Homo sapiens: one gene and its partners. The protein of the gene in region 1 purifies or fractionates together with the protein of each later gene. This does not show direct contact. Each region holds a gene or a part of one and is shown in the gene's direction. Other genes may lie near its edges. The genes, in order: ZMAT4, CPVL, LYG2, RNF123, DSG4 and DICER1.

Evidence for each region.
Region 2: the proteins of ZMAT4 (region 1) and CPVL purify together in Homo sapiens (affinity purification with mass spectrometry; one large-scale study listed by BioGRID and IntAct). This does not show direct contact.
Region 3: the proteins of ZMAT4 (region 1) and LYG2 purify together in Homo sapiens (affinity purification with mass spectrometry; 2 studies listed by BioGRID and IntAct, with this or other methods). This does not show direct contact.
Region 4: the proteins of ZMAT4 (region 1) and RNF123 purify together in Homo sapiens (co-immunoprecipitation; one large-scale study listed by IntAct). This does not show direct contact.
Region 5: the proteins of ZMAT4 (region 1) and DSG4 purify together in Homo sapiens (affinity purification with mass spectrometry; 2 studies listed by BioGRID and IntAct, with this or other methods). This does not show direct contact.
Region 6: the proteins of ZMAT4 (region 1) and DICER1 purify together in Homo sapiens (affinity purification with mass spectrometry; one large-scale study listed by BioGRID and IntAct). This does not show direct contact.

The regions. Positions count from the first base shown.
Region 1 is NC_000008.11:40,533,232-40,538,545, reverse strand, and holds part of ZMAT4 (zinc finger matrin-type protein 4), read left to right. Parts: intron 1-5,314.
Region 2 is NC_000007.14:29,061,814-29,067,127, reverse strand, and holds part of CPVL (probable serine carboxypeptidase CPVL isoform b precursor), read left to right. Parts: intron 1-1,006; coding exon 1,007-1,105; intron 1,106-2,893; coding exon 2,894-3,067; intron 3,068-5,314. UniProt on the Homo sapiens protein: May be involved in the digestion of phagocytosed particles in the lysosome, participation in an inflammatory protease cascade, and trimming of peptides for antigen presentation.
Region 3 is NC_000002.12:99,245,569-99,250,882, reverse strand, and holds part of LYG2 (lysozyme g-like protein 2 precursor), read left to right. Parts: intron 1-4,062; coding exon 4,063-4,203; intron 4,204-5,314. UniProt on the Homo sapiens protein: May act as a potent antibacterial protein that may play a role in the innate immunity.
Region 4 is NC_000003.12:49,708,880-49,714,193, forward strand, and holds part of RNF123 (E3 ubiquitin-protein ligase RNF123), read left to right. Parts: intron 1-3,599; coding exon 3,600-3,777; exon of another isoform or gene 3,778-4,013; intron 4,014-4,633; coding exon 4,634-4,708; intron 4,709-4,858; coding exon 4,859-4,946; intron 4,947-5,030; coding exon 5,031-5,118; intron 5,119-5,210; coding exon 5,211-5,295; intron 5,296-5,314. UniProt on the Homo sapiens protein: Catalytic subunit of the KPC complex that acts as E3 ubiquitin-protein ligase. Promotes the ubiquitination and proteasome-mediated degradation of CDKN1B which is the cyclin-dependent kinase inhibitor at the G0-G1 transition of the cell cycle.
Region 5 is NC_000018.10:31,390,277-31,395,590, forward strand, and holds part of DSG4 (desmoglein-4 isoform 2 preproprotein), read left to right. Parts: intron 1-379; coding exon 380-546; intron 547-801; coding exon 802-936; intron 937-1,878; coding exon 1,879-2,064; intron 2,065-5,314.
Region 6 is NC_000014.9:95,084,701-95,089,415, reverse strand, and holds the end of DICER1 (endoribonuclease Dicer), read left to right. Parts: 3' UTR 1-3,188; downstream 3,189-4,715. UniProt on the Homo sapiens protein: Double-stranded RNA (dsRNA) endoribonuclease playing a central role in short dsRNA-mediated post-transcriptional gene silencing.

The DNA.
Region 1 (5,314 bases):
ATATTTAAATAGATGTATTCTTAGCCAAATATGAGTTACTATGGCCCGCGATGCAGCCTTCAGGAGGTCCTGAGAACATGTGCTTAAGGTGGTCGGGGTGTAGCTTGGTTTTATACACATTTTAGGGAGGCAAGAGACATCAATCAAATACATTTAAAAAGTACATTGGTTTAGTCCAGAAAGGTGGGACAACTAGAAGCGGGGTTCGGAGGCTTCCAGGCTATAGGTAAATGTAAACATTTTTTGGTTGACAATTGGTTGAGTTTGTCTAAAGACCTGGGATTAACAGAAAGGAATGTCTGGGTTAAAACAAAGGGTTGCAGAGGCACAAGTTTTTATTTGCAGAGGAAGCCTTCAGATAGTAGGCTCCCGAGAAAATAGGTTGCAAAGTGTTTCTTATCAGACTTAAAGTCTGTATTGATGTTCATGCTGGAGAGGTATAATGAGGCAAGTCCGACTCCTATTTCCCATCATGGCCTGAAACAGTTTCTTAGGTTAAATTTTAAAAGAGCCCTGGCTGAGCAGGAAGTCCATTCTAATGGTTATGGGGAGGGTTTCTTAGAATTTTATTTTTTGGTTACAGGGTCCTGATGATGCCCAAAGCCTAGCACTTTGCAGACCCCTTGCTCTGCCTCAGCTGTAGCCAGAACCCCCAAAGTAGAAGGGAATGGAGTCACCCAAATAATGGAGGTCAGGTTGTGATGTTGTGGATCTCAGGAATGAGGAGGATGTGTGTGTATTAGGAGTTCTAGCAAGTTTCCTCATCTGTAAAATGATGATGTTCGACCTCCCTAGATAATCTCTGGGATCCCTTCTGGCTCTAACATTTCATTAATTTGTGATTTTATGAAAAACGTTTTGCAAAGCAAATGAATAGTGTAAACAAGATTATAAAGAGAATATTTGCCTTCTTAAGGGAATAAACTGTTCTGAAGCACATCAGGAGTGGTCATTTGCATATAAACAATGCAAATTCTATATAAGCAGAGGAGGCTTGTTTTCTTAGGTGTTTTGGTAAGTCAATTACAAATCGTTCTTATCAATTTTGCTAGTGTATATGTATTAGGAAGCAGAAGAGTTGAATTCATTTTAAAAGTGCTATACTTTCGAATGTTCCCAATTTCTTGAATGTTCCCAATACCTGACTTTTCTCTGAATTAGCCTGAGTTTTCTTAAATTATTTCTTTATTCCATGGGTTAAAACATTTGTGATTTGTTTTTTTCAAGAAGGTTTTGGATAAATTGTTATGTTCATCAGATCTCAGAGGTGTCAACTGAACCCCATTCTACTTTCAGTCGTCCTGAATGGGCTTAGGACTACCCAAAAAAGTCTATAACCTGTTAGGGTCCAAAGTCCTGCCTCCACTTTTGATTCCCAACATCTTAATGATCTCTCTTCATCTTTCTCCCCTGTACATTTGAGTGCTTCTTTTTCCCACTCCCCATATCAATCAGACTACATAGGCTTCCAATACAAATTACCACTTTGGAAGTATTTTATTTGTCTAGATGACTGTATTGAAGATTTGGTTGTCATACAGAGCTATCAACATGCAGAGAACAAAGCCATCTTCCTGATTCTATTCTCTCTAGGCCTCTTCCCCTTCTCTCATATTCTCTTTCTCTTCTCTTTTTTTTTTTCTCCAAACCCCCTCATCCCGCTGACATTCACCCTTTTCAGAAGCAAGACACCTTGTGCCCCTTGTCTTAAGCACAGCAGTTTCCTTCTGTAGCTTGGGCATTTTCTTAAAGTTTTGTTCTCCACTCCCAGGTGGTTGCTCAAAATATTCCAAATACATTTTGTTGTGTCAGGGTAAATTCAGGAAACACGATCTGGAAGAAGCAGGTTTCCACCAAGGGGGATAGGAGAGGCTGGGCAAGCAGAGAGGTGGGGGATGAGTTTCCAAGCAGAAGGAACTGCCTGCACCAACCATGGCAACATGTGAGAGCCAGCACGTAGAGGAGCCTCACCTGATTTTCTGTGATCCAGATAGGTGGAGTAATCGCAAGGAATAATGAGTAAAAGACAGGAATGGAGAAGAAGATGCCAGTGACATTACAGTGACCTTTATGTGTCATATTAAGACATTTTTATTTTCTCAGAAGGTGCTGGGAACCCAGTGAGGCATTGCAACACCAGTGTGATGAGGCTGCAGAGCTGACTGCAAACATCCCAGATAGAAAACTAGTGCAATGCCACAGACCAGGAGTAGGACATGGGGCAGGGGATGCAGAGGAAATGGGACATTTAAGAGAGAAGTAGGAGACCAATAAGATTTGGGATTGATTGATTATGGGCTGATGGAGAAAAAGGAACTGGCCAGGGAAAACGCTGCACTTTTGTCTTGAATATTTATTGGCCAAGTTAGGAAATACAAGAATAGAAATTAGGAAATGTTCAATTTTGGAAATATAACTTCATTTGGTTTATCAATGCACTATTTTAATTTATGGGCCCAAAGTGTTATGTCCTTGGATGTCATTCAGTTCTCAGGCAATAGGCTGAACAAGTTCCAAGTCATGACTGTTCAGCAACATTTTTGTGAAAAATGCCTTAGACATGACTCCTCCTCTCCTAACAAACTCTGGCCGTATCATTTCATGTAAACCATGGCCCATGACTGCCTTTTCCTTGTCACTATAAGCTTGCTACCTGGCTATCAGAAATTAGGCTTCATCATGGCTAAGGATGTTCTGCTCTGTTTTTTCACTGGCTTATTGAACAGTTTACATTCAGTGTGGGACCAATTAATCATTATATATTTCTCTAGCTACCACCTTCAAACTCACATGGTCAAAGTGCTTTCTTCTTTCTTCCTCCATATTGTTAATATCTCAGGAAGATTGTGTACATATCTGGTCATTTTTTTTTTTTTTTGAGACAGAGTCTTGCTCAGTCGCCAGGCTGGAGTGCAGTGGCAAAATCTCAGCTCACTGCAACTTCTGCCTCCTGGGTTCAAGCAATTCTCCTGCCTCAGCCTCCCAAATAGCTAGGACTACAGGAGCATGCCACCATGCCCAGCTAATTTTTGTATTTTTAGTAGAGACAGGGTTTCACCATGTTGGCCAGGATGGTCTCGATCTCTTGACCTCATGATCCGCCTGCCTCAGCCTCCCAAAGTGCTGGGATTACAGGCGTGAGCCACCACACCTGGCCAAGGTGAGACCATTTTCAATGGTTGTTACTAGTCTATCTTAAGATTTCTGTCTCAAAACCAGGTCAGAGAATCCCCCTATCCTGGACCTTCAGGATGAGAATAAGGGGAAAGACTAGTGGTGGAAGAAGCGGAAGCTTTTGGACATGGCTGTTCCTACAGATGTGATTCTCATCTGGCTTGTGCTAGAAGGCTGCCACATGCCCCGTGTGGCCCAGACTTCAATAGGGGCTGAACATCACAGAAGTTCTATGTCGCGCCACATTCCCTGACAGGGACACTTCTCTTTTGGGAAGGCAGAGGTACCCATTCCAAATTGCCCAACATTTTTCTAACTGCTTCCTGAGACCCCATGAAAAGTCCCTATTAACACTCAGTTACATTAGTTTTAGAAAGGTAGCAAATGTGGGCCGGACGCAGTGGCTCACACCTGTAATCCCAGCGCTTTGGGAGGCTGAGTTGGGTGGATCACCTGAGGTCAGGAGTTTGAGACCAGCATGGCCAACATGGCAAAACCCTGTATCTACTAAAAATACAAAAATTAGCCAGGTGTGGTAGCACGTGGCTGTAATCCCAGCTACTTGGGAGGCTGAAGCAGGAGAATTGCTTGAACCTGGGAGGCAGAGGTTGCAGTGAGCTGAGATTGTGCCACTGCACTCCAGCCTGGGCGACAAAGCGTGACTCAGTCTCAAAAAAAAAAAAAAAAAAAAAAAGGTAGCAAATGTGCAAATGTGAAACTGAGGCCATGTTTTCATCATGTTTGTGGTTTCATATATGTCAAAAAGAAGATGAGCTATCTGACTATGACTGGTATGTATATGGCGCAATTGAAATTCTCTCTTCAGATGGAATCATATTTAAGGCTGTCAGAGAACAAAGACTGCCCTTCGCCACAAATGGAAGCTATGTGATGAATTTTTTTCCCTATGCCTTTCTTCAATTTTCTATTTAAAGAAATTTCTGAAAATACATGAATTATGCAGCTTATCTCTCAGATGAAAAAGAATTTTCTTCTTGGATTGGATGGCTGCGTGTTTATTAATAGCAGTGAAATTTTCCGTGTTCTTTTGTATCAAATGGGATGCTGACTAAAATATGAAGTAGCCTTTCCAGCAAAAATAACAGTAATGGATGAATAATTACAAAAGCTATAGGGAACTGAAAGACATTTTAATTTGTCATTATTTCTATGTATTCAGAAAGGATCTGAATAATTACAATGACTATAAAAAGGAAGAATGTGATATTTTTCCTCATTATGGGATTAAGTTCTTAATATACCACTTTTACTATAAGTTTAAAAAAAAAACCCTTTCATCTGATTTTCTCTAACTATGTAATCATGACTAAAGACTGTTTAGCTGTGAATATTTGGTCTTCTTACTGTTACGTGAAGATGCTGTCCTTCAAACTCTTTTTAATCTCAAAAGTGTTCATCTTTGCAGTTTATAAAAATGAAATTATACTTATTTGCTCAGTGAGAACTTTCAACCCTTATGTCACATTAATTTTTGAAGATGACAAGGACTGTTGAATTTCTTTAGGTCATGACCGGATGGTAGCAGAGTATGAGATTCTAAAACAGGATTTTAATTTTTATAACAACTACTAAAAAGTGGCTATAGCTACCAGGGTCATGCTAAGGCAAAATTTCAAACATTTCAAAGCTATTTTTAAAAATATGCATATAGTCTCAATTTTTTTAGTCTACATTATACCAACAATGTTCAAATTCTTATTCAGATCCTAAGAATATTCTATGACAGCACTGTTTTTGGAAAATGAAATTTCAACATATGCTCTGTGTTTCTAGGTGAGTGATAGAATTTTCTTTTGTAGCTTTTGAATTTTCATTTACCAGACTGCCAGTGAGACATTTGGACCTTAGCGAAGGAAGATGGGAAAACCTGTGAAAAGAGTCTAACCTGCTCTAACACTTTTGCCACCCTTCCCTCTAAAATATTCTTTAAGGGAAACAGCCACCACTAGAAGATGCTTTTCCAGCAGCTTCCTTTCAGCTGGAGCACTTCTTCAGCAGCATGCGAGAAATCCCCGGCAGAAGATGTCAACAAGCTCTCTCACCTCCTGCTTATGAGTTTTTCCAGGGTTCAAGTTCCACTGCTTAACAGCTGTTTGATCTTGTGCCATTAATTTAGCCA
Region 2 (5,314 bases), on another chromosome or scaffold:
TCAAACATCTTTCTCCAACTACCACCTCCTGTCCGAATCTCTTCTGCTAATGTACTGATCTTACAGCCCTGCAACCTCACTACCTTTCAATCCATTGATCCTCCTGCCTCTCCACTATCTCTAACCCCCTCAAGTCTCCATTTCTCTAATTACCTGTCTTCAACCCAGGGTCAGTCATTCCATACATTTCCAAGCCCAAAGCTCTTTTGCATTTCTTCCAACTCCTTTGGCTGAACCACAGCCCTGGCTCAATCTGCCTCTCTGTCAGGCTGTGCTTGTCTCCACACAGCTGACAATGGCTGGAGGAAAGCATGCAACCATGCTGACTGCTCTCCCGCTCAGCTGGTGACTGGGTTTTTTAATGTCAGCCCAAAGATAACTTCCACCAGCTCCAGGAACCTGCATCTGCACCATATCCTGCGTCTTCTCTCCATGTCATCTGGTGAGCAGTTCATGATCCATGTTAAGGCACCCTTCCCACAAGGCTTACTCCCATAGGCAAGGCCTTTGAGCTTACTGTGTCCTCTGCCTGGAACCTTCCTTCCCCTAGATGTCTGCATGGCTCTATTCCTCTCATCCAATATGTCTTTACTCAAATGCCACCTTCTAAGTGAGGTCCTCTGTGACCTCCTCTCTACATTGTCCCATACACACATGCACACACATGACACTTCCTACTCCTCTTTAGTTTTCTCCTTGTCATTCCCTAACATACTCAAGAGTTTATCACTGTCTACCATATGATATAATTTACTTAGAAATGCTTGTTGTCCCCCACCAGAATAAAAGCTCCATGGGGGAGGACCATTGGTCTGTTTTGTTGATGGCCATTTCTCCAGTGCCATGACAGTGTCTAGCACAGAGAATATGCACAATAAGTGGGCGCTGGATGAAACAATAAAGGAATGAAAAAGTTGTTGAATAAATGAAATGACAAATGTCTGTACATTTTTATCCACACTGATGTTTTCTTTCTTTCTTTCTTTCTCCCTCTCTCCCAACCTAGATACTGGATAAACTACTAGATGGCGACTTAACAAGTGATCCTTCTTACTTCCAGAATGTTACAGGATGTAGTAATTACTATAACTTTTTGCGGTGCACGGTAATGACATTTTAAAAACCATAATAATGTTTGCTTAAAACTTTTGGCAAAACCGAACTTCCTTTGATTTGGGAAATATTATAGATGACTTTATACTAGACCAACATGTCCAAACTGTACCGCGTGATGTGGTCTACTAACCCATAGAATCTTTTCCTCATCAGTGTTGTATACGTTATAATCTGACCACTGAGAATGTGTGATATTTCAGATAACTCAAAACAACTTCTGATGAACATGATTTCCCCCAAGTAGAGCTTGTTATAGAGGCACTTTTGTGAAGGACACAGGCTGGGATTGGAGTTCTGGGTCTCAGGTCCCAGAGCTTCAAGTCTGTTTACGAGTCTCTTGAAAATGCCCACATTCTTTGTTCTGTACTTAAGACGCTTGGATAATCAAAACTGCCAAAGCCTTAATGAAAATATTTGCTTTGTCTTACTTTTAAGATGTTTAATGCATTTAGTATGGCCCTCACTTCAAGCCTTCTGGAATATTTCTCAAAGTATTCAAGTAGTTTGTTTCATAAAAGTAGGCCAAAGTTGATATCTTTTGTGTAGAATTAGTCAAACAGAAGGAGCCAAAGTAGGTGTTTGAATTTGTATAATCTTTGTCTAATGCTTATGACAATGCATTCTGTTTTTAAAATTGCCTGATTTATGAACTAGTTTGTAAATAAAGTATAACGTTAGTTTCAGTGGAATTCGCCAATGCTGCAGTTTTGGATTTAGATTCTACTAAGAGAAAAACATGTGGTAGACAAGACAGAAACAAAATTTGTGATGATACCTTTTTTTCTTTACAACAATATATTCACAGTTAGTAAAAATTGTTGATGAAGCACAAAGTTGTCAAACTCAAACTTTAACAGTTTTTTTAATCCTTGTGTAACTGTTTTTTTTTTAAAGCATTTACTCCTTTCTTTCAGTATAATGATTATTACAGAGACTTTATTGCAGTTTTTTTTTTAATAAGCTTCATGGACAACTTTTCTTCTGTCTTGTGTCCTTCATAAAGTATCATCTCTTTTCACATTTGACATATTTTCCCCTTTATTATAGTCAATCCAATTTTGTGTGTGTGTGCGGTTTTTTTTATTTTTTAATTTTATTATTATTATACTTTAAGTTTTAGGGTACATGTGCACAACGTGCAGGTTTGTTACATATGTATACACATGGACACAGGATGGGGAACATCACACACCGGGGACTGTTGTGGGGTGGGGGTAGGGGGGAGGGATAGCATTAGGAGATATACCTGATGCTAAATGACGAGTTAATAAGTGCAGCACACCAACATGGCACATGTATACATGTGTGTGGTTTTAATAAACAGCAGAACACAGAAAAGAAATTCTTAGCTTTAAATCCAGCACACCACCAACCTGGCCCTTGTGATCCATTTGACCTTCTTTCCAAAGAGCCACCAACAAGGAGTGAATTGATTTTGATAATCTCATCTCTTTTGTTTTCTCTCTCTTTGCCTCTAGTGGGGTTGCTAATGGGAGTCACAGATTGCAAAAGATTAGTTTCTGCAAAGGAAAATCCTGTATTTGCAAATTGGGTATTTTAAGAGTATTTTAAGGGTATTTCAGATTTCTAATTAGTAAAAAGATTCCACCTAAATTATCTCAAAACCTCCGAGTTAAAATTTCAAGAATGGCGACAAGTTAATAGTCCCGTCACGTTTCTCCATGTTGTATGTTATGAGAAATTCACAGCTTTTCCCAACATACTGTTCCTGCCACCAATCATGTTCCCTATGTCTTTCCAATGCCCCTTCTGCCAGGAACCTGAGGATCAGCTTTACTATGTGAAATTTTTGTCACTCCCAGAGGTGAGACAAGCCATCCACGTGGGGAATCAGACTTTTAATGATGGAACTATAGTTGAAAAGTACTTGCGAGAAGATACAGTACAGTCAGTTAAGCCATGGTTAACTGAAATCATGAATAATTATAAGGTAAGAGAGCTACTTCAGTTACTATTTTAGGAACTTTCAGATTACCCAGAGCAGAAGTGATTTGTAATTTGAGTCCTGCCTTTTTTTTTTTTTTAACTTTTATGATGTGTCATTAGCATAAATAACAGCCCCTTTCTTTGTTTGATTCCAATTCAAAGTTTTATATTGTTCCTTTTAATTTAACCACTTTTGCCGTTGTGGTGACTTATACCTGTAATCCCAGTGCTTTGGGAGCCTGAGGCGGGTGGATCACCTGAGGTCAAGATTTTGAGACCAGCCTGGCCAACATGGTGAAACCTTCTCTCTACTAAAAAATACAAAAACTAGCTGGACATGGTGGCGGGTGCCTGTAATCCCAGCTACTTGGGAGGTTGAGGCGTGAGAATCACTTGAACCCGGGAGGCAGAGGTTGCAGTGAGCCAAGATCGCAACATTGCACTCCAGCCTGGGCAACAGAGCAAAAACTCTGTCTCAAAAAAATAAAAATAAAATAAAATAATTTAACCACTTTCCCCTGATTATTCCTTAAAATGAAATTCCCTTTGGCACACACCACTTCTCATCCTTTCTTGAGAAAGGAAGAGTTGCAGAGCCAAAAAGATGACTGGCCGTGTGTAAGAGCCAGATTTCTCTTATGTGTTGCTTTGTTACATGAATCCCAATGACGTCAGGGATAAATGAAATCAACTGGTTATTCTGAAAATGCATTTTGCCTAATGGTTGTATTCATTCACTTTACCCAATCACAGTGTTTTGAGTCTCTCCTTAGGGTGTGAGGTTGAAATGATGAATGAGAAAGGGTCCCTGTTTGGAAGTAGGTCAAGTCAAGCCATTGTGCTGTCTGGTTGAAATGCTCTGCCTTTGCTGCCAGTGGAGGTGCCAGTGGAGAGTGAGGTCACAGAAAAGGAGCCCTGGAGGTTCAGGCAAAGAAGACATGGGCCCTGGAACTCCCACTGGGAAGGAGGACACCAAGAGCAAATGACATGGGGAAAGTCAGCCTGTGTATTATTTCTTTCCTGGTACTACGCTCTCAGCTCCTCCTCTGGTCCTCCAGTGCTGTTAGCCTTTGCCCAAGGGATCGTCTCTAGGGCAACTCCGAAGGATGCCTGTACTGATGACTGGGGAGACCACCACTGAGTGATCCACTTCCTCCCTATATCCTGTTTTGAATGAACAAAAAACAGGGCAGTCGGCAGCCCATAGGATTTTTGTATGAATTAGAATAAAGGCATCCTCTCCTCAAGATACTTTATTTCGATCTTTCAGAAATTGTCCTGATATACTGCCTTAGTTAAAACCAGACTCTTTACTGCCATTTGCTGGCATGCTGAATATTCATTTCTACAATGTGTATATTAGGAATGGTGTGTCTTAGGATTGTTCAGTGCACAATCTGCAATACTATCCAGGCAGTCCCTGGCCAATGCACCCTAACTAGACTGTGGTTTAGAATATGCCAGACCTAGGAGGCCCATTTCTGGGTCCTGCTTCTAGTACAGTGTTGGACACGTAACCATTGTTGAAAATAGTTTAAGACCAATTATATGCCAAGTCTACAAACCCATTATAAACCTGCAAAACTTGATGAAATACTTACTTTCTTGGAAAGAAAGAGTCTAACTAGGTCAGGCCAGCATTTCAGCCATCCTTGTGTTTGGTTTTCTTGGGGACATGTAGTGGCCCTTAGTGCTTGCTGCTTCAAGACTTCTCAGAGGACCTCCAGAAGGCACTGCTGTTTGTCCTCTCCTCTGAGCTCTCAGAACGCGTTGTCTTTACCCCCATAGGTGTACATGGCACACTCTAACGTGCAGACTCTCAGTCTGACACCCATACCACCACCAGCCTGGAGCAGATGTCAGGAATGAATGAATGATTAGTGCTGTATCAAAAATATATCTATAAACCTGTCCATAATCCATTAGGTGCTTATTATCCACAAATTTATTAAACCAAAAAGAGGTTAGCGTTCATGTCTTAAAGATGATGTTCTGTAATGTGATGTTAAGGAATGGAACGAGTGAATTTTTTTGAGAGGAGAGCAGATAAGTTTGATATGTGTTATTTGTGCCCTTGGGAGATATATTTTCTCACTGTACACACTTTTTTTTTTTTTTTTTGAGATAGAGTTTTGCTCTTGTTGCCCAGCTGTAGTGCAATGGTGCGACTGGCTCACTGCAACCTCCACCTCCTGGGTTCAAGCAATTCTCCTGCCTCAGCCTCTCAAGTAGCTGGGATTATAGGCATGTG
Region 3 (5,314 bases), on another chromosome or scaffold:
CGTAGCATCACTTACTCAACCAGTCCCTAAATTAATGACATTTGTGTTGTTTGCAGTCCTTTGCTCTTATCAACAGTGCTGGAATGAACAGCCTATCACAAAACTGTGTTCCACAGCAATGTGTGTGACAGCCTATTTCCTCACAACCTCTCCCACAGAGGGTATTGCCAAACCTTTGGGCTCTTGCCAACTAAAGAGTTGGAAAATGCAGCCAGGCGTGGTGGCTCACGCCTGTAATCCCAGCACTTTGGGAGGCCAAGGTGGGCGGATCACAAGGTCAGCAGATCGAGACCATCCTGGCTAACATGCTGAAACCCCGCCTCTACTAAAAATACAAAAAATTAGCCGGGTGTGATGGCAGGCGCCTGTAGTCCCAGCTGCTGGGGAGGCTGAGGCAGGAGAATGGCATGAACCCAGGAGGCGGAGCTTGCAGTGAGCCATGATCGCACCACTGTACTGCAGCCTGGGCGACAGAGCAAGACTCTGTCTCAAAAAAAAAAAAAAAAAAAGAGTTGGAAAATGCTGTTATAATGATGTTTTAATGTGGCCTTTCTCTTCTTTTGAGTGTGGTTTAACGTCTTTTATATGTTTAAGGACTATTTTCTTTTTTTGTCTATAAACTCGCTATATATTCTGCTGATAAGGTGATATTTGGACAGAGACCTGAAGGCATGATCATGTAGATACCAGGAGGAATAGCATTCTAGGCAAAAGGGACCACAAACATACAGGCTTTGAGGCAGAAACCTGCCTGGCATGTTGAAGGATAAGCACAAAGAAGAATGTGGCTGGAGGAGAGTGAACAAAGGGAAAGAGAAGTAGGAACAGGAGCAGAGGGCCACATCTAGTAGGTCTTGGAGGCTGCAGGATGGACTTGGCTATTCCCCTAAAGGAGGAGAAAGCCACTGGAAGGTTAAGAGAGAAGACTGATAGCAGCCCATGCATATTCCCACAGGGCCACTCCGTCTACTAAGTAGAGGATGGGCTGCAAGAGTGAATCAGGGAGGTCAGTTAGAAGGCTGTTAGGAGAGTCCAGATGAGCAATGATGCTGGCTGGGACTATGGCAGAAGCAGAGGTGGGAGAAGTGGTTAGATTCTTTTTTTTTTTTTTTTTTTTTTTTGAGACAGAGTTTCGCTCTTTTTGCCCAGGCTGGAGTGCAATGGCGCGATCTCGGCTCACTGCATCCTCCTCCTCCTGGGTTCAAGCGATTCTTCTGCCTCAGCCTCCCGAGTAGCTGGGATTACAGGCATGCACCACCATGCCTGGCTAATTTTGTATTTTTAGTAGAGATGGGTTTCTCCGTGTTGGTCAGACTGGTCTTGAACTCCCGACCTCAGGTGATCCGCCTGCCTTGGCCTCCCAAAGTGCTGGGATTACAGGTGTGAGCCACCACGCCCAACCAGATTCTATTTTTTTTACATCAAACATTTTAACAAAATCCTTTTTTTTTTTTTTGAGATTTGAGACAGGGTCTTGTTCTGTTGCCCAGGCTGGAGTGCAGTGGCACCATCAAAGCTCACTGCAGCCTCGACCTCCCGGGTTCAATCAATCTTCCTGTCTCAGTCTCCCATGCAACTGGGACTACAGGCATGTGCCACTACACCAGGCTAATTTTTGTATTTTTTGTAGAAATGAGTTTTGCCATGTTGCATAGGCTGGTCTCAAACTCCTACGCTCAAGCAATCGTCCTGCCTCAGCCTCTCAAAGTGCTGGGATTCTAGGCATAAGCCACAACATCCAGCCCTAAGTACTGTCTTATAACAAATATTTGGACTCTTAAGGTACAAGTTAACAGTCCTTGAAACCGTTAGAACAAACTTTTCAACATTACAGAAAATAACTTTGTATCTCCTTTAGCAAAAGCTCTGCCTCTCCTGTAACAGGTAGACTTGGACAGAAATTCACTTTTTAATGACAGAACAAAAAGACAAGAATAGATTTGACTTAAATTATTTTGGCAAATTCAATTTTTACTTCTAATTTTATTAAATATACATAGGAACTCAACTTCACAGTAAATGATATATAATAAGAATATATTTAAATTGTTATGGTGCCCTTCTTTCTTATCTTTCTAAACAAAGGCAAATTGGTTTTTTTTGAATTTTATTTATTTATTTTTATTTTATTTTATTTTATTTTATTATTATTATACTTTAAGTTTTAGGGTACATGTGCACAATGTGCAGGTTAGTTACATATGTATACATGTGCCATGCTGGTGTGCTGCACCCATTAACTCGTCATTTAGCATTAGGTATATCTCCTAATGCTATCCCTCCCCCCTCCCTCCACCCCACAACAGTCCCCAGAGTGTGATGTTCCCCTTCCTGTGTCCATGTGTTCTCATTGTTCAATTCCCACCTATGAGTGAGAACATGTGGTGTTTGGTTTTTTGTCCTTGGTGATAGTTTACTGAGAATGATGATTTCCAATTTCATCCATGTCCCTACAAAGGACATGAAGTCATCATTTTTTATGGCTGCATAGTATTCCATGGTGTATATGTGCCACATTTTCTTAATCCAGTCTATCATTGTTGGACATTTGGGTTGGTTCCAAGTTTTTGCTATTGTGAATAGTGCCGCAATAAACATACGTGTGCATGTGTCTTTATAGCAGCATGATTTATAGTCCTTTGGGTATATACCCAGTAATGGGATGGCAGGGTCAAATGGTATTTCTAGTTCTAGATCCCTGAGGAATCGCCACACTGACTTCCACAATGGTTGAACTAGTTTACAGTCCCACCAACAGTGTAAAAGTGTTCCTATTTCTCCACATCCTCTCCAGCACCTGTTGTTGCCTGACTTTTTAATGATTGCCATTCTAACTGGTGTGAGATGGTATCTCATTGTGGTTTTGATTTGCATTTTTCTGATAGCCAGTGATGGTGAGCATTTTTTCATGTGTTTTTTGGCTGCATAAATGTCTTCTTTTGAGAAGTGTCTGTTCATGTACTTCGCCCACTTTTTGATGGGGTTGTTTGTTTTTTTCTTGTAAATTTGTTTGAGTTCATTGTAGATTCTGGATATTAGCCCTTTGTCAGATGAGTAGGTTGCGAAAATTTTCTCCCATTTTGTAGGTTGCCTGTTCACTCTGATGGTAGTTTCTTTTGCTGTGCAGAAGCTCTTTAGTTTAATTAGACCCCATTTGTCAATTTTGGCTTAAGAAAGGCAAATTGTTAATCTAGATGTTCACATCTCCAGAGGCATTTGTGTCAGAAATGTTTTAAAATTCCTCTCAAAACAATAGACACTGGGGACTGTAAAAGGAAGGAGGGAGGGAGGAAGGTAGGGAGGCAAGGGTTGAAAACTACACATCAGGTACTGTGTTCACTATTTGGGTGAAGGATCAATAGAAGGCCAATCCTCAGCATCACACAATATGCCCACGTAACAAACCTGCACATGTACCCCCTGAATCTTAAAAAAAAAAAAAAAACTCTCAAGTTTCCTGCTTAAAAACCTGTCAGTTTTAATTCTGACATAGAGCATGGTATGACTACAGTGCCTGTAATCCCAGCACTTTGGGAGGCCAAGGAGAGAGGATCGCTTGAGCACAGGAGTTTGAGACTAGCTTGGGCAACATAGCAAAACCCCATCTCTACAAAAAGAGAAAATAAGCCAGTCCTGGTGATATGCACCTGTGGTTCCAGCTACTCAGGAGGCTGGGGTGGGAGGATAGTTTGAGCCCAGGTGTTGGTGCCTGCAGCGAGCTATGATCATGCCACTGCACTCCAGCCTGGACAACAGAGCAAGACCTTGTCTCTTAAAAAAAGGAAAAAAAAAGACTGCACATGTATTTAGGATCTATAAGAGATGAATTTCATAATATTTTGCATAGAGTTTTCAGATTACGTCCTGTGTTAATACAAAACAAAACAAAAGATCGGAGCAGAGTGGGCATGGGGAACTTCTGTCTGAGGAACAAATAATGGCAACAAGAGAGTTGGGGAGTTCTGTCTGTGGCCTTCTGCCTTTGGTTTAGTGATGTTTATTGCAGCAACCCAAGTAATATCTTCTCAGAGGATTCATGTGAGTTACACTTCTGCCTCCTAGGCACTTCCAGGGGCTCATACCCCTTCAGTCACTCAATGAAGCCTCACCTACATCCACGCCTGTACCACGGCTGCTATGGGGACATCATGACCATGAAGACCTCTGGGGCCACTTGTGATGCAAACAGTGTGATGAACTGCGGTAAGTGAAAAGCAGAGCAAATGACTGGCTTCCCCCTTTCATCGTTTTCAGATTCTTTCTTAGGAAGTCACTTAATTTTGAAAAGGTATAATCATCATTATGACAATAGTATCAAAATTAAAAATGAGCAAAAACCACAATCCTGACCAATCTAACAACCAGCTTCTTTTCATTTTCCACCCCCATTCTTTCCAAACTTTGTCCAGCTGTGTTTATTTCCATGTATTGAAACTACTGCTTGAATAAATATTAGACTCTGGCTTTGTTTTTTGGGTGGTGCTGCTGTGTTTGCTTCATGTTACACATGACCATTTGAAGCAATACTGTTCCAAAGTCGTCTTCATCACGTTATCCTGGTTTTAGAGTGTCGGAGCTGGCAGCAACCACAAGGTCACATCAGACCCCAACCCCTCAAATTTACAAATCAGAGCCCAAAGACTCAGCAAGGAGGGGAATACTTCCCAATAGAACAGAACCAACTAGTGGCGGAGCCAGGCTAAAACATGCATTGGCTAACTCCTAGTACAACAGGCTTCCCAGTGCACTAGTGTGGCAGAATTTTTTTTGTGTGTATGACAGAGTCTTGCTTTGTCACCCAGGCTGGAGTGCGATGGCATGATCTCGGCTCACTACAATCTCCACCTCCCAGGTTCAAGCGATTCTCCTGCCTCAGTCTCCTGAGTAGCTGGGGTTACAGGTGCCTGCCACCAAGTCCAGCTAATTTTTGTATTTTTAGTAGAGATGGGGTTTCACCATGTTGGCCAGGCTAGTCTTGAGCTCCTGACCTCAAGTGATCTGTCCACCTCGGCCTCCCAAAGTGCTGGGATTACAGGCATGAGCAATTTGAAGGAGAAACAGAGCAGAAGCGACACCTGTTGGGGGTTGTGGATCTGTTTGTTTCTGCAGTCAGAGATCAAAAGGATGTCTTAGAATGGTTGTCCCAAGTCATTAGCAGTGATCAGAGGCTGTGGCTAACTTAGCAAATTTTTAAAAATGGTTTTCTTCTGAAGTAGAAGAAACAGTTTCTTTTCTTTTTTTAACTTTAAATTCTTTTTTTTTTTTTTTTTAATTAGAGATGGGCTCTCACTATGATGCCCAGGCTGGTTTCGAA
Region 4 (5,314 bases), on another chromosome or scaffold:
ACCCTAATTTCAATTCTTTTGGTTATATACCCAGAAGTGGAATTACTGTATCATATGGTAATTCTGTTTTTTATTTTATTTTTAATTTTAATTTTTTATTTTTTTTGAGATGGAGTCTCACTCTGTCACCCAGGCTGGAGTGCAATGGTGCGATCTCGGCTCACATCCTGGGTTCAAGTGTTCTCCTGCCTCAGCCTCCCGAGTAGCTGGGACTACAGGTGCGCACCACCATGCTCGGCTAATTTTTGTGATTTTTTTTTTCTTTTTTTGAGGTGGAGTTTTGCTCTTCTTGCCCAGGCTGGAGTGCAATGGCGCGATCTCGGCTCACGGCAGCCTCTGCCTCCCAGGTTCAAGCAATTCTCCTGCCTCAGCCTCCTGAGTAGCTGGGATTACAGGCATGTGCCACCACGCCCAGCTAATTTTGTATTTTTTTTTTTTTGAGACAGAGTCTCACTCTTTCACCCAGGCCGGAGTGCAATGGCGCTATCTCAGCTCACTGCAAGCTCCGCCTCCCGGGTTCACACCATTCTCCTGCCTCAGCCTCCCGAGTAGCTGGGACTACAGGCGCCTGCCACCACGCCCGGCTAATTTTTTGTATTTTTAGTAGAGACAGGGTTTCACCGTGTTAGCCAGGATGGTCTCGATCTCCTGACCTCGTGATCCACCCGCCTCGGCCTCCCAAAGTGCTGGGATTACAGGCGTGAGCCACCGCGCCTGGCCTAATTTTGTATTTTTTTTTAGTAGAGATGGGGTTTCTTCATATTGATCAGGCTGGTCTTGAACTCCCGACCTCAGGTGATTCGCCCGCCTCGGCCTCCCAAAGTGCTGGGGTTACAGGCGTGAGCCATCGCGCCCTGCAATTTTTGTATTTTTTGTACAGATGGGGTTTCACCGTGTTGGTCAGGCTGGTCTTGAACTGCTGACCTCAGGTGATCCGCCTGCCTCGGCTTCCCAAAGTGCTGGGATTGCAGGCATGAGCCACCGCGCCCGGCCAATTCTGTTGTTTAATTTTTTGGAAACTACCATATCATTTCTACAGTGGCTGTGCCTGTTACATTCTCACCAGTAGTGCATGAGGGTTCCAATTTCTCCATACATATCCTTACCGACACTTCTTATTTTCTGCCCTTTTTTTTTCTTGGTAGACGCAGGGTCTCACTATGTTGCCCAGTTGTCAAACTCCTGGGTTCAAGGAATCCTCCTGCCTCGGCCTCCCAAAGTGCGGGGATTATAGGCATGAGCCACCACACCCGGCAATTTCTACTTTTTTAATAGTAAATCCTAATGGGTAGGATATGGTACCTTATTGTGGTTCTGCATTTTGCTAATGATTAGTGACATTATGACAAATAGTACCTTTACAAGCACTTATTGGCCATTTGCATATCTTTTGTTTGTTGGTTTGTTTGTTTTGTTTTGAGAGGGAGTCTCGCTCTGTGGCACAGGCTGGAGTGCAGTGGCAAGATTTTGGCTCACTGCAACCTCTGCCTCCCAGGTTCAAGCGATTCTTCCACCTCGGCCTCCTGAGTAGCTGGGACTATAGGCATACGCCACCACGCCCGGCTAATTTTTGTATTTTTAGTAGAGATGGGGTTTCACCTTGTTGGTCAGGCTGGTCTCAAACTCCTGACCTTAGGTGATCCGCCTGCCTCGGCCTCCCAAAGTGCTGGGATTACAGGCTTCAGCAACCGCGCCTGGCCATATCCTATAATTTTGCTGAATTTATTTATTAATCCTAGTTGGGGTTTTGTGTGTGTGTGTGTATCTTTAGGATTTTCTACTTATAAAATCATGTCTGTGAACAGAGATAATTTTACTTTATCCTTTCCAGTGTGGTTTCCTTTCTTTTTCATGCTTAGTTGCTCTGGCTGGGATTTCCAGGACTGTGCTGAGCAGAAGTAGAGAAAGTGGCACACTTGTCTTGTTCTTGGTCTGAGGGAGGGAGGGATTATAGTCTGTTACCACTGAGTGTGATGTTAGATGGAGGCTTTTCATATATGGTCTTTATTATGTTGAACTGCCTTCATTCTCTGCATCTTCAGCACTAACTCACCTGTGTCTTTCTAATCCCATTATTAATGGAGAGATTCACTCCTGTAAACCAGCACTTTGGGAGGCTGAAGCGGGAGGATCACTTGAAGCCAAGAGTTCATGACCAGCCTGGGCAACCCATCTCTACAAAAAAAACAAAATTTAATTAGCGGGGCATGGTGACACATACCTGTAGTCCCAGCTACTCTGAGGTCAGGAGTTCAAGACCAGCCTGGCCAACATGGCGAAACCCCATCTCTCCTAAAAATACAAAAATTAGCAGGGCGTGGTATCACATACCTGTAGGAGGATCACATGAGCCCAGGAGTTCCAGGTTACAGTGAGCTGTGATTGTGCCACTGCATTCCAGCCTTGACGCTATATGTGCCCAAAAGTTATGCTCTCTCCTTCTTTCTCTGTCTTAGCTGCTACATCTTCCCCTTCATCTCCCTCCAGCACAGGCTCTTCCCCATCTCTGAAATAGTCTCACCAGGGTCTCTGTCTGCCCCCATCTCAATCCGGCCGGCACATTTCCATCTCCTTTGCATTGATACCTTAGCTCTGATGGGGCCATTGCCAGCCCCTCACCAGACACAGTCTTCGCTGGCCTTCTGTAGCAGCAGGATCATCGCTGCCTAGGTTTGCGCCTAGGCCCTCCCCTAACCTCTTGCTTACATCTTCTCCTCAGTTCCTTGGGCTTTAGGGCACATCAGAGAGCTGGTGTGAAGCCCAGGTGCTGTGACCGCACTCCAAGACACACGGGTGCTGTGGGTCTGGGCTGGGGCCTGAGGCCTCATTCTTGCCTGGGCTCCTTTGTGAGACCCTGACATAGACTTTGTGGAAACCACATTGTGGGGAGCAGGGCCCTCAGCAGGTTTTGTCTGTTTCCTGTGACCTCTGTTCCACCAGTCACACTGCCCCCTGCTTTCCCACCACCTTCTCCTTTGCACTCCAGATCAAATTTCTGCCTGTCTGCTTACCATCGCCAGCTCTCTTGGGCCCTTCACACACCTTGTACTCCACTTTTCCACACAGACTTCCAGTCACAGCACCCTCTTGCCTAAAACTTGCTTACAGGCTGAGGCAGGCAGATCACCTGAGGTCAGGAGTTCAAGACCAGCCTGGCCAACATGGCGAAACCCCATCTCTACTAAAAATACAAAAATTAGCCGAGCGCGGTATCACATACCTGTAGTCCCAGCTACTCGGGAGGCTGAGGCAAGACAATCCCTTGAACTTGGGAGGCGGAGGTTTCCAGTGAGCCAAGAGGGCGTCACTGCACTCCAGCCTGGGTGACTCCATCTCAAAAAAAAAAAAAACTTGCTTACAAATATGCTGACCAGAGTTCTGGCCTGGGTCACAGTAATGCGCCCTCCAGGCTGAGTGCGTCCCTCTTGCCTGCTGAGGACTTGATTGCCCTGCTTGAGCTACTGCTCATGCTTCCTGAAATCCAGGTCTCAGTTGTGCTGTCGTAGGCCTGGGGAGGCCTTTCCTGATCCCCAGGCCAGGACATGCCCCCAAGACCCCACTGGTGCGCAACCCAGCAGCACCCCGTGTGCCTCCTGCAGGAGAAGATGCTGGACATCTACTGGCTGCTGCGCGTCTGCCTGCGGACCATTGAGCACGGTGATCGCACAGGGTCTCTCTTTGCCTTCATGCCCGAGTTCTACCTGAGCGTGGCCATCAACAGCTACAGTGCTCTCAAGAATTACTTTGGTCCCGTGCACAGCATGGAGGAGCTCCCAGGTGATGGAACCATTCAGGCTGAGGCAGAAGCAGAAAAGGGGTCTCTAGTGTGAGCCCTAGGAGCCCTGGTCTGAGACCTCTGTGGCCCAGCAACACACTTCTGTGGGGGGCGGGGAGGGGAGGAGCTTCCTCTGTGGTTCACCCTGCAGCAAACAAACGTCTGCACCCTGCCCTGGGACCTGCAGCCACAGAGCCAACAGCTCCCTAGCAAAGGAAAACAGACAAGATGGAACACGGTGGGTGTAGACCTCTTGGCTTTCACTTCCTTCCTAGTGCTATGAGCAACTGCCATGGTCCAGGAGCCAGCTGGCCTTGCACCTTGACTCCCTGGCACTGGTCACAAAGCGTAGCAGTTGGTCAGGGGCAGAATGGTTTGTCTTGGTAAATCACAGCAGGGGGTGGACCCTGCTAGGGTCCACATCCGAACCTGGGCCTCTCAGCCTGCTGATTCCAGGCTGGGCGTGGCAGTGTATGTCTGGATCAGGCAGTGAGCTGTCAGGCCCCTAGCCTGCCCCCTGCCCAGCCACAGGCCTCAGTGCAGGCTTTGTCTTCAAAGACAGAGCTGTGAGTGCCCAAGGAGCTTTGACTGCTCATCAGGTGTGTGTGCTGAGATGGGTTTGAGCCCAGGTCAGGGCTCCTGCCAGGGCCTGTCATCCCTTCACAGTGAGCCTGTGCCTTAGCCCTTGCACAGCCACCAATGAATGCTTTGCCCGATGTCCCCAGATGCCACCCTGGGTCCAGGCTGGCCTTGGGAGCCAGCTCTAGAGCCTGCTACCCAAGTCCACCCACCCTGCTGACATGCCTGCCTCTGGAGCCCCCACTCCCAGCCGACACGTCTCACTTCCCACCCTTGCAGGCTATGAAGAGACCCTGACCCGCCTGGCTGCCATTCTCGCCAAACACTTTGCCGACGCACGCATTGTGGGCACTGGTGAGGGGCCCCTACAGAGGGTACAGGGGGAGGGGGATGGGATGGCACCTCTGGTCGGCTTTCTTCTATGAAAAATGTGGCCAGGTGGGCATGAAGTATGGGTCCAGGGCTCATGCCAAGCCCCTGCTGAGGCACGGTGTGTCCCCGCAGACATCCGAGACTCACTGATGCAGGCCCTGGCCAGCTACGTGTGCTACCCACACTCCCTGCGGGCTGTGGAGCGAATCCCCGAGGAGCAGTGAGTGGGGCCTGGGGGGCACACACCCTGGCCACAAGCACCATGCCCAGCCTCACCCCGTCTCTCCCCTCCTTGCCCTCACAGGCGTATCGCCATGGTGAGGAACCTCCTGGCGCCCTATGAGCAGCGGCCCTGGGCCCAGACCAACTGGATCCTGGTGCGGCTCTGGAGGGTAAGCCTGACTCGAGGGGAAGTGGCTGAGGCTGGCTGGAGGGAGAGGGTGCGCTGTCCCATTGACCTGGGCACTGACCCCCACCTCCACAGGGCTGTGGCTTCGGGTACCGCTATACACGGCTGCCACATCTGCTGAAAACCAAACTTGAGGACGCCAATTTGCCCAGCCTCCAGAGTGAGTATCTGGGTTGGGC
Region 5 (5,314 bases), on another chromosome or scaffold:
CTTAATTAAGCATTTTTAAATGATTTCACAAGACCATGGCAAAAAATAAAACAGATAAAAATCTGTTTATTCAGCTATATGATAAAGAATCTATTGAACTTCTTTTTCGTACTTTAAAGAGAACTATGTTTAGCCACTAATTTAGTATTTAATCATTTAAGGAGTGCAAGTACTTTTAAAACAGTAAAGGGTTTTATAAAGCAAACCACATTTTTTTTAATCACTGGTAGAGCTGAAAGTTATGGTACTATATTCCCATGGAAAACTCAAACAGAGAGAATTCAGGAGAAGGCCAACCACTCTGTCTTCTTATGCCTAATGATTTGCTGAATTTATTCTAAGAGTCCCAACCATTCTCCACCTCCATTTCTATTTCTAGATACATTGGTAGTAAAGTTATGTGCCACAGATGCAGATGAAGAAAATCATCTGAATTCTAAAATTGCCTACAAGATCGTCTCTCAGGAGCCATCAGGTGCACCCATGTTCATTCTGAATAGGTACACTGGAGAAGTCTGCACCATGTCCAGTTTCTTGGACAGAGAGGTAAAGCCTTCTGTGAATGAACAAGAACTAAAAAATTCAATTTTGAAAAGACAAAGATAAAATGATCCATGTGTACCCTTACTCCAATATAAAGGAGGGAAGAAAAATAATCCATTTTTAATAAAAATTAAAAGCTCAATTATATAAATTTCATTGGATATGTAAATAAAAGAGTAGAGAAATAATGGCATTGAATGCATTGGATTCTATTCAAGACAAAACCTAAGTCTTACGTTCTTTTTCATCTTGATTAAGCAACACAGTATGTACAACCTGGTTGTGAGAGGCTCAGATCGGGATGGAGCTGCAGATGGACTGTCTTCTGAGTGTGACTGTAGAATCAAGGTTTTAGACGTCAACGATAATTTCCCCACCTTAGAGAAAACTTCAGTAAGTTTGTATTCTTATCTTCCTTTTTCCATAAGTGTCAATAATCAATTTGCATAAGTGTCAATAATCAATCATGCTGGCTCATGAGCCTGGTTCTGTCCTATGTGTGGACATACTCAACTTTGTTATAGAAACTTTGGAATTTCTTATGTATACTAATATACCTTCAAATTGTATGTTTGTCTTTGACTCACTACTCCAAACAAGCCTTCTCTGTGAAAGCAACGAACTATCTATTCTGTATACTCTATTCACAGAAACACAGAAATCTGTTGATCTAACTCTGGGAATAACATAGCAACATTAATGTTTTTGTATATGCCTCATGATTTGCTGAATGAATTCTACTAGAGTCCCAGACAGTCTCAACTTCCATTTTCATCTCTAAGCATAAAGAAGCATAAAATCCACACTAGCAGGGCCAAATCTGGCTTGCTGTCTGTTTCGGTTTAAAAAAAAAAACAAAAAAACAAAACAAAAAACGTGTTATTGGAGAGCATAGCTGTCCTCATGCCTTTACATATTGTCTATGGGGGCTTTGTGCTGCAACAGCAGACGTGAGGGGTTGCAACACCAATTCTCTGGCCCACAATATCTAATATATTTACTATTCAGCCCTTTACAGAAAAAAATCTGGTCCTCTATCTAAAAGAAAAGAATAAATAAAGAAAATTAACAATAAGCAAAAATAAATAAATAAATAAAAGAGAAAGGAACAAAGTGCTAATTTGACCTTGATTTTACATACAGCACATGAATGTCAGTTTTATTATCTTATAATCATTTTATTCTTATTCTCCTGATTGGACTATGGGCATTTAATAATGGTGCAAAAATCATCGACATAGTTTGTTGTTAGTATTTTAAATAATAATAATGTGTTTTAAGTACGTTTCTTCTTTTGAAAATTCATTGACTACAAAATTGATCCTTGCATTTTAGTACTCAGCCAGTATTGAAGAGAATTGTTTAAGTTCGGAACTGATACGATTACAAGCAATTGATCTTGATGAAGAAGGCACTGATAACTGGTTGGCTCAATATTTAATTCTCTCTGGAAATGATGGGAATTGGTTCGATATTCAAACAGATCCACAAACCAATGAAGGCATTTTGAAAGTTGTCAAGGTACAGTATAAGGATCTGCAATATTTTCTTCCAAAATATTTTATTCCAAAGAAGTTTTAAATGACCTTAGAGACAGAATCTGCCTTTAAAAAAAAGTACTTCATAACTTTGAATATTGTTTATATCAAGGGTCCTAAGTAACTGCTATGTCAGTCTGAGTCTCCTAGCTAGCAACACAAAACTTATTACCAAGAAAAATATGAAGACTGTTTTGTTCTGACAGTGTCCAATATCTAGTTGTGAAGATAAGGTAAGCAACCCCAAATTAGAAGATATATGGGAGTTCACAGTGCAATAAATAATACAGATGTCATGATATAAAACATAATTAATTGCCAAGGGAGTGGAATATGAAATAATGAAAGAGATAAGAAATGGTGAGATCCTTCTGAGCTAGATTTGTCTGAAAAGATTTCATGCAGGAAATAAGGCTTAAGCAAGATGTTATAGCTAAGATTGCTAATGTGGGTAATAAAATAAACAAACACAGAGTGAGAAAACATGAAGCAAGTTCAGGGCATGGTGAGCAACCCCGTGGGGCTGTAGTGGGGCATCAAGTAGGGAAGTAATCAGAAGTCAGATCAGAGAAGTGAAGCTGAAATCGATCTGCTGAGAACCTTGCATACTGAAATACCGGCTTTGATTTTTTTCTATAGATTAATTTTTCTTTAATTACTTGCTTTTAATTCACAGACAATGATAAAACTGAAAAATTTATAATTAGAAACGAATAAAACCACAAACCAATAAGATTCAGATTAACATTACTGTAATGAGGGAAATTGTTATTTTTTAACAAAGGAAATTGCTGCTAACAACATAAACAACACTTATAGCCAGGAAAATATATATTAAGACATATATGTACACACATATTTTTAGCTTACTACACAGTGTGATTGTGGAATTTACAGTGTGATTATTCAGTTCTGTTACTATTTTTCTCTATTCAAGCACATAAGGCTCTTTTTGTGTTACCATAAAGTAATAGCTGAGACTGGGTAATTTATAAAGAAAAGAGGTTCAGTTGAATCACCATTTTGCAGGCCATACAGGAAGCAAAGTGCCAACATGTCCTTCCAGTGAGGGCCTCAGGAATCTTACAATCATTGTGGAAGGCAAAGGGGGAGCCAGTGCATCACATGACAAGGGCAGTAGCAGAAGAGAGAAGGGGGAGGTCCTAGACTCCTGTAAACAACCAGATCTCGCAAAAACTCATTTATCACCAAGGCTATGGTGGTAAACCATTCGTGAGGGATCTGCCCGATCACCCCTCACCAGGCCCCACCTCCAACTTTGGGAATCACATTTAAAGATGAGATTTGTGGGTGACAGACATCCAAACCATATCATCAAGTTACTGTGAAGTTTTTTCAGATAGCATATTAGGAAGCCATTTAGCCTTCTGGAAGCAAACATATCGTTTATTCATTGGGTCTTTCGCTTTTCTTTCTCAAGTATCTGAGCAATTTTAGTATTACTACTTTACCACCAAAGCACAACCATACACACTGAAATCATATGGTATATTAACTTAAGAGCTGGCCACCAAAATTATGAAAAATATTTATATATAAGATTGTCATCCAAATGAATACACACAATTTTATAATTTCTTAAGTGAACACAAGGACTCAAAGAGTATATCATGGACTTTCTGTTTGGAAAACATTGCTTTGGGCCAGAGGTCAGCAAACTATGATCCAGAGGTCCTCACCTGTCCCCTGTTTCATAAATAGTTTTATTGGAATACAACCACATACATTCATTTACGTATTTTCTGTGGCTGTTTCCACACTCAAGTTGCTGATATGAATACTTGAGATAGAAACTCTGTATGATATGACCCCTAAAACCTAGAACATTTACTATCTGGCCCTTAACCAAAAGTTTTTCAATTCCTACTTATAGACCAAGGAAAGCTTTGGGATATTTTCTAAAATAACAATAACACCGGCCTGGCAAAGTGGCTCACGTCTGTAATCCCAGCACTTTGGGAGGCCAAGGCGGGCAGATCACCTGAAGTCGGGAGTTTGAGACCAGCCTGACCAACATGGAGAAACCCCATCTCTACTAAAAATACAAAATTAGCCAGGTGTGGTGACACATGTCTGTAATCCCAACTACTCGGGAGGCTGAGGCAGGAGAATCGCTTGAACCCGGGAGGCGGAGGTTGCAGTGAGCTGAGATTGTGCCATTGCACTCCAGCCTCGGCAACAAAAGTGAAACTTAACAACATGAGTTCAACTCTGAAAAGACCACAGTTATAAAAATTATTATGATATTAATTAAGTTCTGAGGTACTAAGCATCTGATCTAAGGCAATGGCAGTAAAAATGGAAAAAAAAAAAAAAAGGAATGGGTATAGGAGACATTGCCAAATACAATACAAAGAGGAATAGAGGAACAAGAGGTCACCTCCCACCATATCAAATTCTGAATATTTAGTCAAGTTTTTCTTCCAGGGATCAGAATTTGTTAAACCTTGCATCCTGGTTAAAAATCAAGAGCTAGACATAACATGCAATTCTTACCTATGTTCTTATCATCTTAGTGACTAACTTTGTATATTATCTCATAATATGTAACTGCTCTTTGCTTTTGTTCTGTCTCCCAACCTACTAAAATAATAGAAGAATTTTGTGCATAAAGAACCTGATCTAAATATCTTTCTACCCCCAGCACCTGGTCCAGTGTCCAAAAGATAGTAGAGACTCACAAAATTTGAGAATAGTATTGATGATACTATTTACCTGAAACTAATGGCATAGATATCATCCAAACAGAAGTCACTGGACTTGATTGCATCATTCGTAACTTCTGCATACAATTATAAATATGAAAAAAATTAACAATGCAGGCAATGTACTATCTGACTTATGTAATGTGCCTTCTGTGATAACAACTTTTTTAAAGATATACTTAATTGCTAAAAAAAAAAAAAAGCTATTGAAATATCAATTTCATGAAAAATTTGTCAAGGTAATTTGGATGCTGTATATACAAAGCCCTATCTATTTTTTTCTGAATGATAACTTTCCAAATCTCTTAAAAAGAGTAAGAAAAAATGTGCTTAAAAATACCAAAGTAATGGAGAAAGGCTAATTAAAATGAAATTTTAAACCTTGATGTTTGTATTACTACCTAGCCAAAAGAACTATTTTAGAGAACATAAGCGTAATTTTCCCATGTTTGACATTTTCAACAGCTGGTGGTCAGCCTCTCATTCCAGATACATCTGGAATGAGGT
Region 6 (4,715 bases), on another chromosome or scaffold:
CAGCACCTTTACCCTTAGTCTCCTCACATAAATTTCTTACTATACTTTTCATAATGTTGCATGCATATTTCACCTACCAAAGCTGTGCTGTTAATGCCGTGAAAGTTTAACGTTTGCGATAAACTGCCGTAATTTTGATACATCTGTGATTTAGGTCATTAATTTAGATAAACTAGCTCATTATTTCCATCTTTGGAAAAGGAAAAAAAAAAAAACTTCTTTAGGCATTTGCCTAAGTTTCTTTAATTAGACTTGTAGGCACTCTTCACTTAAATACCTCAGTTCTTCTTTTCTTTTGCATGCATTTTTCCCCTGTTTGGTGCTATGTTTATGTATTATGCTTGAAATTTTAATTTTTTTTTTTTTGCACTGTAACTATAATACCTCTTAATTTACCTTTTTAAAAGCTGTGGGTCAGTCTTGCACTCCCATCAACATACCAGTAGAGGTTTGCTGCAATTTGCCCCGTTAATTATGCTTGAAGTTTAAGAAAGCTGAGCAGAGGTGTCTCATATTTCCCAGCACATGATTCTGAACTTGATGCTTCGTGGAATGCTGCATTTATATGTAAGTGACATTTGAATACTGTCCTTCCTGCTTTATCTGCATCATCCACCCACAGAGAAATGCCTCTGTGCGAGTGCACCGACAGAAAACTGTCAGCTCTGCTTTCTAAGGAACCCTGAGTGAGGGGGGTATTAAGCTTCTCCAGTGTTTTTTGTTGTCTCCAATCTTAAACTTAAATTGAGATCTAAATTATTAAACGAGTTTTTGAGCAAATTAGGTGACTTGTTTTAAAAATATTTAATTCCGATTTGGAACCTTAGATGTCTATTTGATTTTTTAAAAAACCTTAATGTAAGATATGACCAGTTAAAACAAAGCAATTCTTGAATTATATAACTGTAAAAGTGTGCAGTTAACAAGGCTGGATGTGAATTTTATTCTGAGGGTGATTTGTGATCAAGTTTAATCACAAATCTCTTAATATTTATAAACTACCTGATGCCAGGAGCTTAGGGCTTTGCATTGTGTCTAATACATTGATCCCAGTGTTACGGGATTCTCTTGATTCCTGGCACCAAAATCAGATTGTTTTCACAGTTATGATTCCCAGTGGGAGAAAAATGCCTCAATATATTTGTAACCTTAAGAAGAGTATTTTTTTGTTAATACTAAGATGTTCAAACTTAGACATGATTAGGTCATACATTCTCAGGGGTTCAAATTTCCTTCTACCATTCAAATGTTTTATCAACAGCAAACTTCAGCCGTTTCACTTTTTGTTGGAGAAAAATAGTAGATTTTAATTTGACTCACAGTTTGAAGCATTCTGTGATCCCCTGGTTACTGAGTTAAAAAATAAAAAAGTACGAGTTAGACATATGAAATGGTTATGAACGCTTTTGTGCTGCTGATTTTTAATGCTGTAAAGTTTTCCTGTGTTTAGCTTGTTGAAATGTTTTGCATCTGTCAATTAAGGAAAAAAAAAATCACTCTATGTTGCCCCACTTTAGAGCCCTGTGTGCCACCCTGTGTTCCTGTGATTGCAATGTGAGACCGAATGTAATATGGAAAACCTACCAGTGGGGTGTGGTTGTGCCCTGAGCACGTGTGTAAAGGACTGGGGAGGCGTGTCTTGAAAAAGCAACTGCAGAAATTCCTTATGATGATTGTGTGCAAGTTAGTTAACATGAACCTTCATTTGTAAATTTTTTAAAATTTCTTTTATAATATGCTTTCCGCAGTCCTAACTATGCTGCGTTTTATAATAGCTTTTTCCCTTCTGTTCTGTTCATGTAGCACAGATAAGCATTGCACTTGGTACCATGCTTTACCTCATTTCAAGAAAATATGCTTAACAGAGAGGAAAAAAATGTGGTTTGGCCTTGCTGCTGTTTTGATTTATGGAATTTGAAAAAGATAATTATAATGCCTGCAATGTGTCATATACTCGCACAACTTAAATAGGTCATTTTTGTCTGTGGCATTTTTACTGTTTGTGAAAGTATGAAACAGATTTGTTAACTGAACTCTTAATTATGTTTTTAAAATGTTTGTTATATTTCTTTTCTTTTTTCTTTTATATTACGTGAAGTGATGAAATTTAGAATGACCTCTAACACTCCTGTAATTGTCTTTTAAAATACTGATATTTTTATTTGTTAATAATACTTTGCCCTCAGAAAGATTCTGATACCCTGCCTTGACAACATGAAACTTGAGGCTGCTTTGGTTCATGAATCCAGGTGTTCCCCCGGCAGTCGGCTTCTTCAGTCGCTCCCTGGAGGCAGGTGGGCACTGCAGAGGATCACTGGAATCCAGATCGAGCGCAGTTCATGCACAAGGCCCCGTTGATTTAAAATATTGGATCTTGCTCTGTTAGGGTGTCTAATCCCTTTACACAAGATTGAAGCCACCAAACTGAGACCTTGATACCTTTTTTTAACTGCATCTGAAATTATGTTAAGAGTCTTTAACCCATTTGCATTATCTGCAGAAGAGAAACTCATGTCATGTTTATTACCTATATGGTTGTTTTAATTACATTTGAATAATTATATTTTTCCAACCACTGATTACTTTTCAGGAATTTAATTATTTCCAGATAAATTTCTTTATTTTATATTGTACATGAAAAGTTTTAAAGATATGTTTAAGACCAAGACTATTAAAATGATTTTTAAAGTTGTTGGAGACGCCAATAGCAATATCTAGGAAATTTGCATTGAGACCATTGTATTTTCCACTAGCAGTGAAAATGATTTTTCACAACTAACTTGTAAATATATTTTAATCATTACTTCTTTTTTTCTAGTCCATTTTTATTTGGACATCAACCACAGACAATTTAAATTTTATAGATGCACTAAGAATTCACTGCAGCAGCAGGTTACATAGCAAAAATGCAAAGGTGAACAGGAAGTAAATTTCTGGCTTTTCTGCTGTAAATAGTGAAGGAAAATTACTAAAATCAAGTAAAACTAATGCATATTATTTGATTGACAATAAAATATTTACCATCACATGCTGCAGCTGTTTTTTAAGGAACATGATGTCATTCATTCATACAGTAATCATGCTGCAGAAATTTGCAGTCTGCACCTTATGGATCACAATTACCTTTAGTTGTTTTTTTTGTAATAATTGTAGCCAAGTAAATCTCCAATAAAGTTATCGTCTGTTCACTTTGTGTCCTTTCATCTTTTTTCAATTCAAGTGGGTAATAACGTTTAAATAGTGGTAGCAGAAATGATCTTTATAATGTTTCAATTCCATGGTGAATCATATGAAAATGCATATTTTAATATAAAATTTTGTTTACCAAGTTCTGCTTCATGTCCACCTGTAGAATTATATAGTAACAACTGTCTTTTTTGAAGACTTAATTCCAATCTGCTTTTTGGAAATTCTGTCACATTGATTGATGCATTCTAGGTCTTGGATTATTTAGATGATGTGTTTGACACATTCTTGAGGTGAACTTGGCTTTTCTAAAAGCAGGTGGACAGAATGTTCAGCTTCCAGGTTTTTAGGACACATTTCCAATATTGTTGATTAAGAAATAATTCTATCATTTTAGCCTTTTGACCCAACTTTTTTTGTAACTCAGTAAACCAAGCACTAATATGAATCATTTGGTTGTAGAAACAAGATGGTAAGAAGTTTTTTAGAATGAGAAAAAAGTTTAGTTTTCCTTTGTAGGTTTAAATTAGTCCCTTCCTTTCCTCTCTCTCTGACTGCCCTAAACTAGATGAGAAAAAAGTATATTTTAATCCTAAGGAATTTGGGTAAGTGCTGCATGCTTGTGTGTGTTGATGTTACTGCCCTGAATTCTCTAGATAGTTCAGGCCAAGCCTCAGGGCCACAGGTCCTTCCTGCCACCATTGACCCTACCCTCCAAGACAAGCAACTGCTCACGTCTGCAGCTGTCACGGCTAGCAAGAAAGAACACAGCCAGGCTGAATGTATCATTTTGCAGATTGCGATGTGCGTGAAAAGAATCCAGATGGGATTGAATTTTTGTGTGTGTGCAGATCCGTGAGCACAATGTATGTTTTAGATGGAATGGTAAATGCTGGGTCCCAGCCAGCTCAGGTCTGTGCCCCTTGGAAAGATGCAAGGAGCAGAGAGATGTGCAGGCCAGGAGAAGTGCTTTATAACTGGTCTGCAAGGCAGTTTATGAACAACCCTTAGAAGGTTTTTTGGTGTGTATGTGGTAAAATACACATAAAGTTTACCATCTTAACCATTTTTAAGTGTACAGTTTAATGGCATAAAGTACCTTCACAGTGTTTTGCAATTCTCACCACCCTTCATCTCCAGAAGTTTTTCTTTTTCTTTTTTTGAGACAGAGTTTCGCTCTGTCACCCAGGCTGGAATGTAGTGGCGCAATCTCAGCTCACTGCAACCTCTGCCTCCCGGGTTCAAGGGATTCACCAGCCTCAGCCTCCCGAGTAGCTGGGACTACAGGCGCCCGCCACCACGCCAGGCTAATTTTTTGTATTTTTAGTAGAGAAGGGGTTTCACCATGTTACCCAGGATGGTCTTGATCTCCTGACCTCGTGATCTTCCTGCCTGCCTCAGCCTCCCAAAGTGCTGGAATTATAGGCGTGAGCCACCGCGCCTGGCCCATCTCCAGAACATTTTCTTTATCCCAAATTAAAACTCTACCCATTAAACACTAATATTCCTTTCCCTCCAAATCCCTGGCA